Linked DNA regions of Homo sapiens: regions 2 and 3 are each reported to be linked to region 1. Evidence: microRNA targets listed by miRTarBase, many of them from high-throughput screens and not tested one by one. Region 1 holds a microRNA gene; each other region holds the end of a gene's coding sequence. Distances are between the middles of the regions.

The links. Region 1 holds the annotated microRNA hsa-miR-4775 (UUAAUUUUUUGUUUCGGUCACU, at 1,832-1,853, opposite strand). A microRNA usually pairs through its seed, bases 2 to 8, with sites in the 3' UTR of a target mRNA and lowers its output. Matches are read on the target gene's strand: a 7mer-m8 pairs with bases 2 to 8, a 7mer-A1 pairs with bases 2 to 7 and ends in A, and an 8mer does both.
Region 2: miRTarBase lists NPFFR1 as a target of hsa-miR-4775. The part of its 3' UTR that is shown has no 7-base or 8-base seed match.
Region 3: miRTarBase lists ARPC2 as a target of hsa-miR-4775. The part of its 3' UTR that is shown has no 7-base or 8-base seed match.

Annotation. Positions count from the first base shown.
Region 1 is chr2:207,752,601-207,756,668 of GRCh38, reverse strand. It overlaps MIR4775 (microRNA 4775), which reads right to left and starts at 1,862; the gene lies at 1,788-1,862. It overlaps CCNYL1 (cyclin Y like 1), which reads right to left. Exons shown (of 10, transcript NM_001330218.2): 10 at 495-3,081. The coding sequence ends at 2,971.
Region 2 is chr10:70,251,104-70,255,171 of GRCh38, forward strand. NPFFR1 (neuropeptide FF receptor 1) reads right to left here. Exons shown (of 4, transcript NM_022146.5): 4 at 1-4,068. The coding sequence ends at 3,854. Among named protein-coding and RNA genes, the nearest start is that of PPA1, 20 kb to the left of the region's middle.
Region 3 is chr2:218,253,178-218,257,245 of GRCh38, forward strand. It overlaps ARPC2 (actin related protein 2/3 complex subunit 2), which reads left to right. Exons shown (of 11, transcript NM_152862.3): 11 at 714-1,171. The coding sequence ends at 738. Among named protein-coding and RNA genes, the nearest start is that of GPBAR1, 5.8 kb to the right of the region's middle.

The DNA of each region.
Region 1 (4,068 bases):
TTTTAACTGAAATGTAAGCTTGAAAATAGCACATTAAAGTCAAATTATGTGGCTTAAGACATCCTCTCAACAGCAACACAAATTCTAGTTCCTGTCTTTCCATTCTCTTTCCTGTTTGTCTGAAAACCTCAAATACCTCTTGTTCTAATTCTACGCTATTCCTTTAATTCCTTTCTCTTTGATACATTTTGCTTAATTTTATATTCTAATGTGCTTTTCCCTCTCAGACACGATAACCAACTATTCAAGATGCCATCTAATGCACTATGCCATTAAGTATTGTGGTCAGTGATTTTAAGTGTAATAAATTATCTTCAGGTTGAAAAGAGCATATGCAAAAGAAATGGATCACTACATCTTAACTAGAGGCATGGATCAAATCAACTTATGGTTGGTTTGAAAATGCTTTAAGACATATCAGGATTGACTTAAAACTAGGCTGGGCAGAGATGTAACACTATGTGGATAGAAGTGTTACAAACACACTAGCCATATTTTAATTAAAATAGAGTTTATTAGCTTTTAATATAAACATGAGAAATAAAAACCACATAAATTGTAGCATTCTTTTCAAAATAAAACTGCAATCAATACTTGAATCTCCAAACTCTGAATTCCATAAACAATATTTGTTTTTTTGAGGTGGTAGATTGTAATATTTGTATACCATTATTTATCATTTATGTCTCTGTCCTTTAAAAATGATGGAAACTGCAGCACAATATGATGTGAAGCATTGCTATAATAGAGGAAGTACTCCTGTCCCAGAAATGCTTTGTTTATAAGCAAGATTCCTAGGATTAGATTTGAGAAAGTAGGAGAAACAGATTTCACATAGTTGAGAACACTAACCTCTTCTTAGTATTTCAAATTTAGGTGACATTATCGGTCTCCTAAAATTATTTGCTCCTTGCCTTTTAAAGCCTGAAGAGTTCCTAAGGGTTATGTAAGTATTTCTTAAATAGCAGGACTTAATGGGACACCTACAGCTTGGTAGCATGTAGGATGATAAAACAGCTGTTCATATCACCTTCTATAATTAGGGTCCAATTCCTTTTATTACATGTTAATTAACACTGCTCTTCAAAATCTTCCTTTAAAGAAACTGCGGTAATCAAAGCATATAGAGCACAGCTCTGCGGGTAACTACTTTTAAAAAGAGGGCATTTTATGGAGATACAAGGTATTCCAAAAGTTCAGTGTAATTTTAAGCTTTGATACTTGTAGAAATATAAATGCTACAAACCTTTACAAAACCTTGTCTGAACATTTTTCTTCTGCTTTTTTCTTTGAGACAGGGTCTGGATGTCGCCCAGGTTGGAGAGCAGTGACATGATCATGGCCCACTGCAGCCTTGACCTCCTGGGCTCTACTGATCCTCCCACCTTAGCCTCCAGAGTGGCTGGGACTACAGACACATGCCACCATATCCAACTATTTTTATTATTTTTTTTTACAGGCAGGGTCTCACTATGTTGCCTAGACTGGTCTTGAACTCCTGCACTCAAGCAATCCTTCCACCTCAGCCTCCCAGGGTACTGAGATTACAGGCATGAATCACTATGCCCAGCCCATTTCTTTTGCATTTAATTTTGCATTTTTCTAAGAGATGGGGTCTTGATAACGTTGTCCAGGTTGGAGTGTAGTAGCTATTCCTATAGGCACCATCATGGTACACTGCAGCCTCCAATACTTGACCTCAAGCAATCCTCCAGCCTCAGCCTCCCAAGTAGCTGGGACTATAGGCGTGCACCACCACACCCAGCTTCATTTTGCAAATTTTGAATATAAAGCTTTTAATTTTTTGTTTCAGTCAATGTCTGCTATCAAGAGTGACCGAAACAAAAAATTAAAAGCTTAATATTCAGGAGACAGGTGCCAGTTGCACTTGTAGTCCCAGCTACTTGTGTGGCTGAGGCTAGAGGATGGCTTGAGACCAGGAAGTTCTAGGCTGCAGTGAGTGCACAATGATTGCACCTGTGAAAAGCCACTGCACTCCAGCCTGGACAACGCAGTAAGACCCCCATCTCTTTAAAAACAAACAAAACAAAACAAAAAACTTTCAAATCATGTTTTTTAAAGGTTTATAGCATTTATACTCATGCTGCAGTGCCTTGGAGGGCCCAAACTATATTCAAGCTTAAAACTGCTTCACTTTTTCTCATCGTCACTGAACCACCATGTTGGTTGGCATTATGAAAATATCTTTTAATACATTTATTTAGCAAGAGAAAAATTATCAGAAAATGAGAAGCACCATTTATAGTTCACAAGAAATGCAACATGGACTCCAATAGAAGTAGATATCAATAACTGATACTTCCTCTGTTTATGACCCCAAACATGCTAAAATGCTAAAGTAATGCTTGCAAAGAATATGAATGACAAATGTTATCCAGCAGCTTTTTGGTTTAAAATGATTGCCAATGACTAGCAGCTTCAATGGTAACAGTAGGGAGGAAGAACCCTTCAGTACCTAACAACGCTGCTGTCTGCTCCTAAGTGGCTTTAGTTAGAGTCCCATGTTTTAATGGTAATACTGCATTGATTTTAAAGGCATATGCAGCAAAATGCGGGGGGAGGGAGAGAAACTGGAAGAAACATAAAAGTTATATGGTTAGTGTCTTTAAAGTCTAAAAATTTAAACTATTGTTTAAAAAACCTTACATAGTTCACAGCTATCGGCCCACACAGTAAGCAAATATCTGTGTGTAGGATGGGAGCCTTCACTTTGGAGTGGTTTTTGTAACTCTGTTTACATTAAAAAGGACAGAAGAGTGTTTTGTTGCATTGACAAGGTCCCATTCTTTCCTGTGGAGTATAATCCTTGTTGTCCATGAGTCTCTTGAATTTGAGATCTTTCCTTTTGATGAAAACACTAATTTTGCTGGTTTTTGAGCAGGAAAGGTGGTATTTCTCCAGTCTTTGTAGATGAAGGTCCCATGACGTTATAACCCCTCATTTCTCCTTTTAAGAGAGGATGGCTTTAGAGCGCTGAATACCAATGAAGTTATCAGCACTGAAAGACCTTCTCATAGCGGCTCTACACAAGTCTTTGTCTTCACACAATCTAGAAATAGCCTAGGAAAGTCAATCAAATAGAAAACAGGTACAATTTTAAAAAGGGTTCCCGCCTTTGAAAGAGCACCATTGTGAAAGCCACACATGTGGACTCCTTTAGATAGTTCACAGTTACAGCTACTTTGGCTGAGTTTTACACTGCCAGGTTGTGGGGACACTACTTCCTGACAGTTCACCAAGGTAATATCCTTTAAGGGCTATGGTTAGATTCCCAGAGAACAAAGGGGAATTTATTATATTATTAAAAAACTGGATTCCCAAAGATATCAAAGGTATTGTGATAGGGCTCCTAACAGCAATAGCATCTGTTATCTGTTAACTTATTCCTTAAATATAACAAACGTACACTTGTGCAAAAAAATGTTTATTCAGCTATTCAAATTCTACCCAATCCTTATTAGCTATTATATACTCAAAGCACATTTTAATGAGGCAGGTGTGTGCTGGACTATACTGGAACATATGAGCGGTCTGATGACTGACGCGCCAAAAGGTATTACTTCACATGCACGTTAATTATGGTAGAAATACATATTATTATTTTTTTCTTTTTTTTTTTTGAGGCAGAGTTTCGCTCGTTGCCCAGGCTGGAGTGATCTCAGCTCATTGCAACCTCTATCTCCCAGGTTCAAGCGATTCTCCTGCCTCAGCCTCCCAAGTAGCTAGGATTACAGGCATGTGCCACCATACCCAGCTAATTTTTTGTATTTTTAGTAGAGACAGGGTTTCACCATGTTGGCCAGGCTGGTCTCAAACTCCTGACCTCAGGTGATCCCGCCTGCCTCGGCCTCCCAAAGTGCTGGGAGGAATGAGCCTCTGAGGCATGAGCCACTCTCAGGCATGTGCCACTGAGCCCAGCCTAGAAATACATATTATTCTAAAGTACCACCAAGGTACCACAGAAAGTGTTAGTTTAAAATATGTGTCCATTTCAGTTGTAATTCTGCTGTATACTCACCAAGAGTCATAAGCCATAAATATTACTTT
Region 2 (4,068 bases), not on the chromosome of region 1:
CATTCAACATTGTTCATTGTAATGAAGCCCATTTAGACCGCCTCCTTCTCATCTATCTTTCATCAGTGACACTTCTGAGGGGTGAGCTGAGGAAACGGGTGCAAAAAGGTACAGAGCTTAATAGCAATCCTTTGTCCATCCAGCTCTGGGCTTGGCTCTCGCCTTGCTTTTTGGATGAATACACAGTAGACTAATGATAGGGGGGCTCTCATCTTCCTTTGCCAACTTCGCCCTCCATTCCAATGCAGATCAGCTCATGAGTCCTCCAGGCCCCAAGAGAGACTCCTCAGCACAGGGCTGGGCAGACTGTGGTTTGTGGGGTGCAGGCCCGGCATCCGCCTCCAGCTCACATTGGTCTGTTGGGTGCTGCCTGGTCTTGGTAAAGTCAAGAGGCCATTCATCAGTGGAGAGCCACAATGAGGGTGACCACTCATGCCGCACATGGCAGGACAGGACACAGAGTCCCTCCAGGAGGCCCTCTGGGTGGGGATGCTCAGTGTCAACAGGCCTCTGGCCCTTTTCCCCCATCACGCATGCCGTTCATCTCCGAACTTGCCGCTTATGAAAGGGCAGTCACCTTAGGAAACCCAGCCAACCTGGAGGTGGAGGATGGCGTGTCAGGAATGGTCCACACCACTTGCCCGTGGGCGCCTAGGCTGCACAAGGCCCCGTCAGGGTCCAGGTGTCAGAACATAGGAATCCAGTGAGGATAATAAATCTATAATTATAAAATAGCTTCATAAAAACATCTTGTAGAGGAAACATACAATTTTCTAGCCACTCTAGTCAGGAAGTAAAGCCCAGCAGAAGCCCAGAGCAGCTGGGGTGGGCACAGGGAAGTGAGACACATCACAGCTGTCCTGGAAGCCTCTGTTTTGTCAGCCATAAAGGGTAAGTTGGGAGAGACCCTGGTTCCCAACCTGGGGTCTCTGTCCTCAGGATTCACACAGGCACTATTGTCAGGAACTACTTCTAGCATCTAAAAACTCCATACATTATTCACAGTAGCCAAAAGATAGAAACAACCTAAGTGTCCACTGATGGATGAATGAACAAAATGAGGACTATCTAGACAATGGGATATTATTCAGCTTTTAAAATGAAAGAAATTCTGACACATGCCACAACATGGATGAACCTTGAAGACATTGTGCTAAGTGAAAGAAGCCAGTCAAAAAGGATAGTATTGTATGATTCCTCTTGTATAGAAGTACCTAGAGTGGCCAAATTCACAGACAGAAAGTAGAATAGTAGTTACCAGGGGCTAGGAGGAGAGGGGATGCGGTGATATTGTTTATAGATACAGAGTTGCAGTTTGGGATAATAAAAAATTCTGAAAATAGATAGTGGTAATGGTTACACAACAATGTGAATATATTTAATTCCAGTCCTGTACACTTAAAAATGGCCAAAATGGTAAATTCTATATTATTTATATTTTACCACATCCACAAAGAAACGAACTCCCCACATACCCACAATGTCTCACTGCTTCATTAAAGCATTGTCATGCCTGTTATCACTCAGATCTGAATGGGCAGGTATAGCCTCTGATTGATTTTTTAGAAGAAACAAAAATAACAGCAAAATATGTTAATTGTAACCTTCAGCGAGAGCTGAAGGAGTTTTTTGGGCAGTTATAACCTTTCAAAGCATGACATCTTTTGGGGGAAGACAAAGGGGCTGTGATGGAAAGGTTGGCTTGAGTGAGTACTTTGGTATCCCTACCCGCCCCCAGCCTCAAATGCTGATCTTGTACTTGGGGAGGCTATGCTAAAGGAGAAACACACCCCAGAGGAGACACCAGGTGGTGTCTTCAGACAATTCCCACCCAGCCATAGGGATAGGCATTTTGGGTTTGAGACGGCCCTTTCTCTGGCTTACTTTTAGAGCCTGGAGTCAGACTTCTTCACAACAAATAGCCCAGAACCAGCTGGGAACTCTCTGGCCCATATGACACATGACACTGATACAGTACCAGAAATGCATGGCACCAGCTAATACCACTGAGGGGCAGGAGGGCATACTCTCTCTCAGACCCTCATCCATCACCCCCAGAACCAGGACAAGGTCATGATGGCTCTTGGCAGCCTGCTCAGCACCAGGGCAAGAACAACTCAGGCTGGACATTACGAGAGTAAACACAATAGATTTCTTTCCCAGACCAAGAGCTTGGGCACCAGGAGTGGGCATTCTGGTTCACTGTTAGGCAAAAAAGCCTTTGGGGAAATTACCAGCTCTCCCGTCATCCCCACCTTCCTTGAAAGGCAGCATGTGGGGTGGGAAGAACAATCAGAAGACAAATTTTAATCTAAATCCTGCCCCTCTGTGGCCCTGGAAACTTGGCCCCTTTGAGCTTCAGTCACTTTGTGAAATGACAATAACATTCAATCTCCTTCAACCTCATTACTATGGATTAAATGAGACGGTGTCTGGGGACATGCTTGGAGAATGTATTGTACAACTGCTTAGGAATTTTCTTCTGCCCCTAAACCTGGAACTTAGAGTGGAGCAAACAGTAAACAGTCACTGTGTGTCGGTTAAGGGAACAGAGCCTCAGAGCCCCGACCCCTGGAAACGTTTCTTTTTTGTTTACTAAATTTCTAGCAACACCGTGTTTTCTACAGAGGTGGGGGGAAATGTCCATTTAAGTGCAAGATGAAGGGGCCTGTGAAAGGACCCTCCAAGGCAATCCCATGTGCTCCCGTCTCCTGGAAAGAAGCCACATTTCTTCAAGTTGATGCAGGGGTGTTGGGGGAAAGCCAGAGTAAACAGGGCTCTCCTGGTACCTCCTTAGAGTACACAAGTCATTTGTGCTGGGGAAGAGTTTAGTGTGTGTCCTTCAGGAGTCTCCAAATGGCACTCCGGCTGCAGCTTCAGTTGACCAACTTCTCCCTCCCAGGAAGCAGGGAGGAGAGAGACCTTGGGCAAGGCTTTGTACCTGCAGCCCCAGTGAGCAGATGTGTTTCCCAATGTGGAAAATGCATACCGTGCTTCCCCTTCCTCGTTGTCTATGAGTACGTAAAAGGACACCTCCTGTGGCCCTGCAGCATTACAATGTCTGTGGCATTGTAAGTTCTTGCCTTGGTCTGGGAGTCCCTCCTCTGTTCTCTAAGCTCAGACCCAGAGGGCAAGACCTAGAGTGCCCTGCAACTGAGGCAGCCTCCCCAAGGCTCGTTCTGAAGCTGCCGTCCTCTGAGGACAATGGCTTCTTGGAACTTCTTGGAACAAACAAGACAAACCAACACATTAGAGCCGGCAGCGGGGGCACACCGTGTTCTTCTAGAAAAGGATCAAGGGGAGTGGCTTCAGTAACGGAACATGAGGGACTCCCTCACATGGACACAAAGCATCAAGGGACAGGCCGGCTTTGCTTTTCGCTTCTTCCTAGCTGCCTAATTAGGACTTACTCAGTTCACAGTGTTCTACCTTACCGGGCCCTCTTGGAGCCAGCTGGAGATGATAAAAACCACACAGGTATTGGAGTCAGATAGCTTCACATGCCATTTCCACCTGAGAAACTTGGGTGAGTCACATCTCTCCAGGCCTCAGTTTTTGCATCTGTAGAAGGAAGAGAAGACAACCTATCTCCAAAGCGTTGTGACAATTCAGTGAGATGATGTTTGTCAAGCCCACCACACAGGGCAAGTTGGTTCCTTCCCGTCCCCCGCATTTGCCTCTACTGAGGGTGAAGGCAGCAGAGAAGACATCACCAGCAGCTGCCCACCACTGCCTGGCTCTGGAGAGGGAGGGACCACGCATCCTCACCTAACCACACCAGGCCGCTATCGCCTGCATGTATCTCGTGTCCAATCGGGGCCCTGAGGCAGCGTCCCGCCCTCCCTGGACCCCCTCAGATATCCCAGGCTGGAATGGTGAGGGGCAGGTGGGAGCAGCCAGGCCCTTCCCTGGGCAAGCCGTGGTGAGCCACCCGCCCATTCCGCAGCGGGAGGCGGCCGGGCCTGGGGGCCCCACTGCTAGGGCCCGACTCAGAGGGCAGCCCGGAGTCGCTGGGCCGCACCACCACGAAGACCCGCCTGTGCAGAAGCCCGCCGGGCCGCTCGGAGT
Region 3 (4,068 bases), 11 Mb from region 1:
CAGGGAAAATCTAGAGCCCATGTTTTTGCCCTGATTTCCCATAGTTCTCAGCTCTAGCTTCCAGGCTGCTTTCCCAGATACTGTTAGGTACCAGTTAGAGGCTCTGTCCTTGAGAACCACCTAGCCCATCTGGAGAAATACTGGGTGGAACAGGACACCACAATTCAGGAGCCTCGAACCAGGCAGGTGTTGTATAAGCCAGAGGAGGAGTCACCACGTGATAGCAGAAATACCTTTAGCCTTGGAAGTTCTGAGGATTGCTCTGAACCAGCCACCTGCCTTCATGGTGAGAGATAAAGGAACTGCTATCTGGGAGCCCTGAGAGGTATACACTGTGTAGGAGGAGCTGACAAATGAGGTAGTACTAAGAAGACGGTTTGAGCCTAGTCGGAAATTCAGGTACGTCTAGGCCATCCAGAAATTGTGAACAAGTGATTCTTCTATCTAACTTGGTACGTTGAATGTCCTTGTGGGCTTAACACTGATATTCCCGGGCATCCAAAGTATCCAATAGGAAGGAAGAGCTCGTGAAACCATTCTGTGAAAGCCAGATTTTAGCCGATGTCCTGTGGTTCCAGTGCCTCTGCTTAAGGAATCTAGCCCTTTCCACCTCTCATTTGGTGTTTCTTTGGGATCCCATCTAGTCTAGGAGTGTGGGGTGGGAGGAAAGGGCAGCCAGAAACTGACCTTCGCACTTATCTCTCCTTTTGAAGGGGGAAGACGTTTTCATCCCGCTAATCTTGGGAATAAGAGGAGGAAGCGGCTGGCAACTGAAGGCTGGAACACTTGCTACTGGATAATCGTAGCTTTTAATGTTGCGCCTCTTCAGGTTCTTAAGGGATTCTCCGTTTTGGTTCCATTTTGTACACGTTTGGAAAATAATCTGCAGAAACGAGCTGTGCTTGCAAAGACTTCATAGTTCCCAAGAATTAAAAAAAAAAAAAAAAGAATTCCACTTGATCAACTTAATTCCTTTTCTTTATCTTCCCTCCCTCACTTCCCTTTTCTCCCACCCTCTTTTCCAAGCTGTTTCGCTTTGCAATATATTACTGGTAATGAGTTGCAGGATAATGCAGTCATAACTTGTTTTCTCCTAAGTATTTGAGTTCAAAACTCCTGTATCTAAAGAAATACGGTTGGGGTCATTAATAAAGAAAATCTTTCTATCTTACATGAGAATTTGCTGGGTTTCTGGACTGCGAGTCCAAAGTGAGAAGAGAAGGAAGGAAGAAGGATAGACCTATACTACCCTTGAACCTGCAAACCTAAGCTGGGAAGCCCTAGTTTCAGGAGCCCATCAGGTTTAGATCCTCACCTTCCCTAGAGGAGAGAATGGCTGGCCAGTGAGCTATATTTAAACTTTTTTTTTTTCCCCCTGAGAGACAGGGTCATTACCTCCTGGGCTCGGGTGATCATCCCACCTCAGCCTCCCAAATAGCTGGGATTACAGGCGCATACCACTATGCCTGGCTAATTTTTTTTATTTTTAGTAGAGATGAGGTTTCGCCATCTTGCCCAGGCTGGTCTCAAACTCCTGGACTCAGGCAGTTTGCTTGCTTCAGCCTCTCAAAGTGCTGGGATTATAGGCATGAGCTATGGAACCCAGCGAGCTATTAATACAAACTTACATGCTTCCTTATAAAGCTTGGTCCCTGAGACTCTGTGGCTGCTCCTGAAGCTCCCTGGTCAATGACAGAGAAATTAAAGGGTTTTCTGGTTTATCTTTTTATTGTGAATAATGTGTGGAATTTCCCAAAATGTGTTCCTTAGTGTGTGGTCCTGCAGGACATTGATGAGTATTCAGGTGTGGGTCTGATGCAGACTAATTGGCCACAGTTTGTCTTTCTCACATGGCAGCCCAAAAGACTGCTCTCAGGGAGAGCAGTTGTCAAAAACAGTACAGAGCCTAGTAGAGCAGCTGTCCCCCAGCAGGACTCTGGTCCCTGAAATGAAATTGCTTCAGAAAGTTTGCTTGGTGTAAGGAATTAAGAGGAGAATTTTAGGGGCACCTGCAACGGTCTGATGGTCATTCTAATGGTTTCTGCCTTCCATCTATGGCAGTGTTTCATACTGGCTTGGGACCCATTAATTGTGGTGTGACTATATCACAACAAGCATTTTTGTTTTCTAAACTTTTGATTTTGAGATAACTGTAGATTTAAATACGGTTGTAAGAAACAATACAGAGAGATCCTGTATACCTTCCACTTGGTTCCCCCACCATGCTAACATCTTGTATAATTGTTGTATAACATCACAGCCAAGAAAAAATCATTAGTATAGTCCACACACCTTCAGATTTGGCCGGATTTACGTGCACTGTATGAGATGTACATCTGTGCATTTTTATCATACGTGTAGCTTTGTGTGACGCCAGCATTTTTAAGCAATTGAATAGTATCAGAGTGCATTACATCTGTTAAGGGTAAGTGTTGATGTGGAAACGTATTTTAGTTACATATGCACATCATGACTGGATTGTAGAAATGTCTCTTGACTGTGAGTCACAGTGGAGAATTTTGAAAACCACAGGTCGTTCAGTCATCAGACTTGATTTTATTTCACTAAAATGGGCTGCTAGAGAGCTCAAGGTACTCTGATTTCTAATTGGCTGCTCAGGGTGCCCCTGACCACTTACTTCTGGTACTTGGAAAACCTAGATTAATTGGATATATTGACAGCAACATATGCATTCTCTACCCCATGAGTTATTTAAGGGGTTTTCAAGTGTAATTTTGACTAGAAGCAGTTTTTGCTCTTTTTTTGTTTTAATTTTAGTTTTTAGAGACAGGGTCTCACTGTGTTGCCGAGGCTGTACTCAAGCTCCTGACCTCCGGAGTAGCTGGAACTACAGGCACCTGCCACTATGTCCAGCTGAGTTTTTGCTTTCTTCCTTAGTAGAACATAACTAATGTTGGAGCTCACTGTACTCTTTTGCCAGTAGTAGGAATCCGATTTCTGGTAAGTACTGTAGGTGACAGAACCAAGGTTGCTTAGAAGATATGGAGTTAGGAGAAAAATGAAAAGGCATAAATATTTTCTACAGCAGTAAATCCTAAGGAAGTAACTAGTTCCAAGACACTGTCAACATTAAAAATCCATAGTGCAGGCTGAGCACAGTGGCTCACACCTGTAATCGTAGCACTTTGTGAGGATGAGGAAGGAGGATTGCTTGATCCCGGGAGTTTGAGACCAGCCTGGGTAACGGTGAGACTCCTTCTCCATCTCTATAAAAATAAATCTGGCTGGGCACGGTGGCTCACGCCTGTAATCCCAGCACTTTGGGAGGCCAATGCGGGTGGATCACCTGAGGTCAGGAGTTTGAGACCAGCCTGGCCAACATGGTGAAACCCCATCTCTACTAAAAAAAAATTAGCTGGGCATGGTGGCGGGTGCCTGTAATCCCAGCTACTCGGGAGGCGGAGGCAGGAGAATCACTTGAACCCAGGAGGCGGAGGTTGCAGTGAGCCAAGATACGCCATTGCACTCCAGCCTGGACAACAAGAGCGAAACTCTGTCTCAAAAATAAATAAATGTGTAGTGCAGCCTGGACAACATGGCAAGACCCTGCCTCTACAAAAAATAAAAATCGGCTGGATGTGGTGGTGCATGCCTGTGGTCCCAGCTACTCAAGAGGCTGAGGCAGGAGGATTGCTTGAGCCCTGAAGGTCAAGGCTGCAATGAGCTGTGTCGTGCCACTCCACTCCAGCCTGGGCAACAGAGTGAGACCCTGTCCCAGAAAAAAGAAAAATCCATACTGGTGTAAACCCGTATCCAGATTGACTCTTCTCTTAACAAGGACACACTTGGCGTTAGTATGGATCTAGCCTCAAAGACCCTCGTCACAGATGAAGCAGCCCATCGTGACCAGTCGAGGCCTTAGGACCGCAGGAGGAATGTCTCAGGATGAGGGTCAAGCACACTGAGGGTGTGGGCTGGAAAAAAGGGATCTAGTTGTTTCTTCCTAGTCTCAGGAAGCCAGTGCCCCAAGGGTTCACACCTGGTAAGTGTAGGCGTCCTTGGATATGGGCTGTAGAGGAACAGTTTGAATCCAGGTGCCGCCATCTA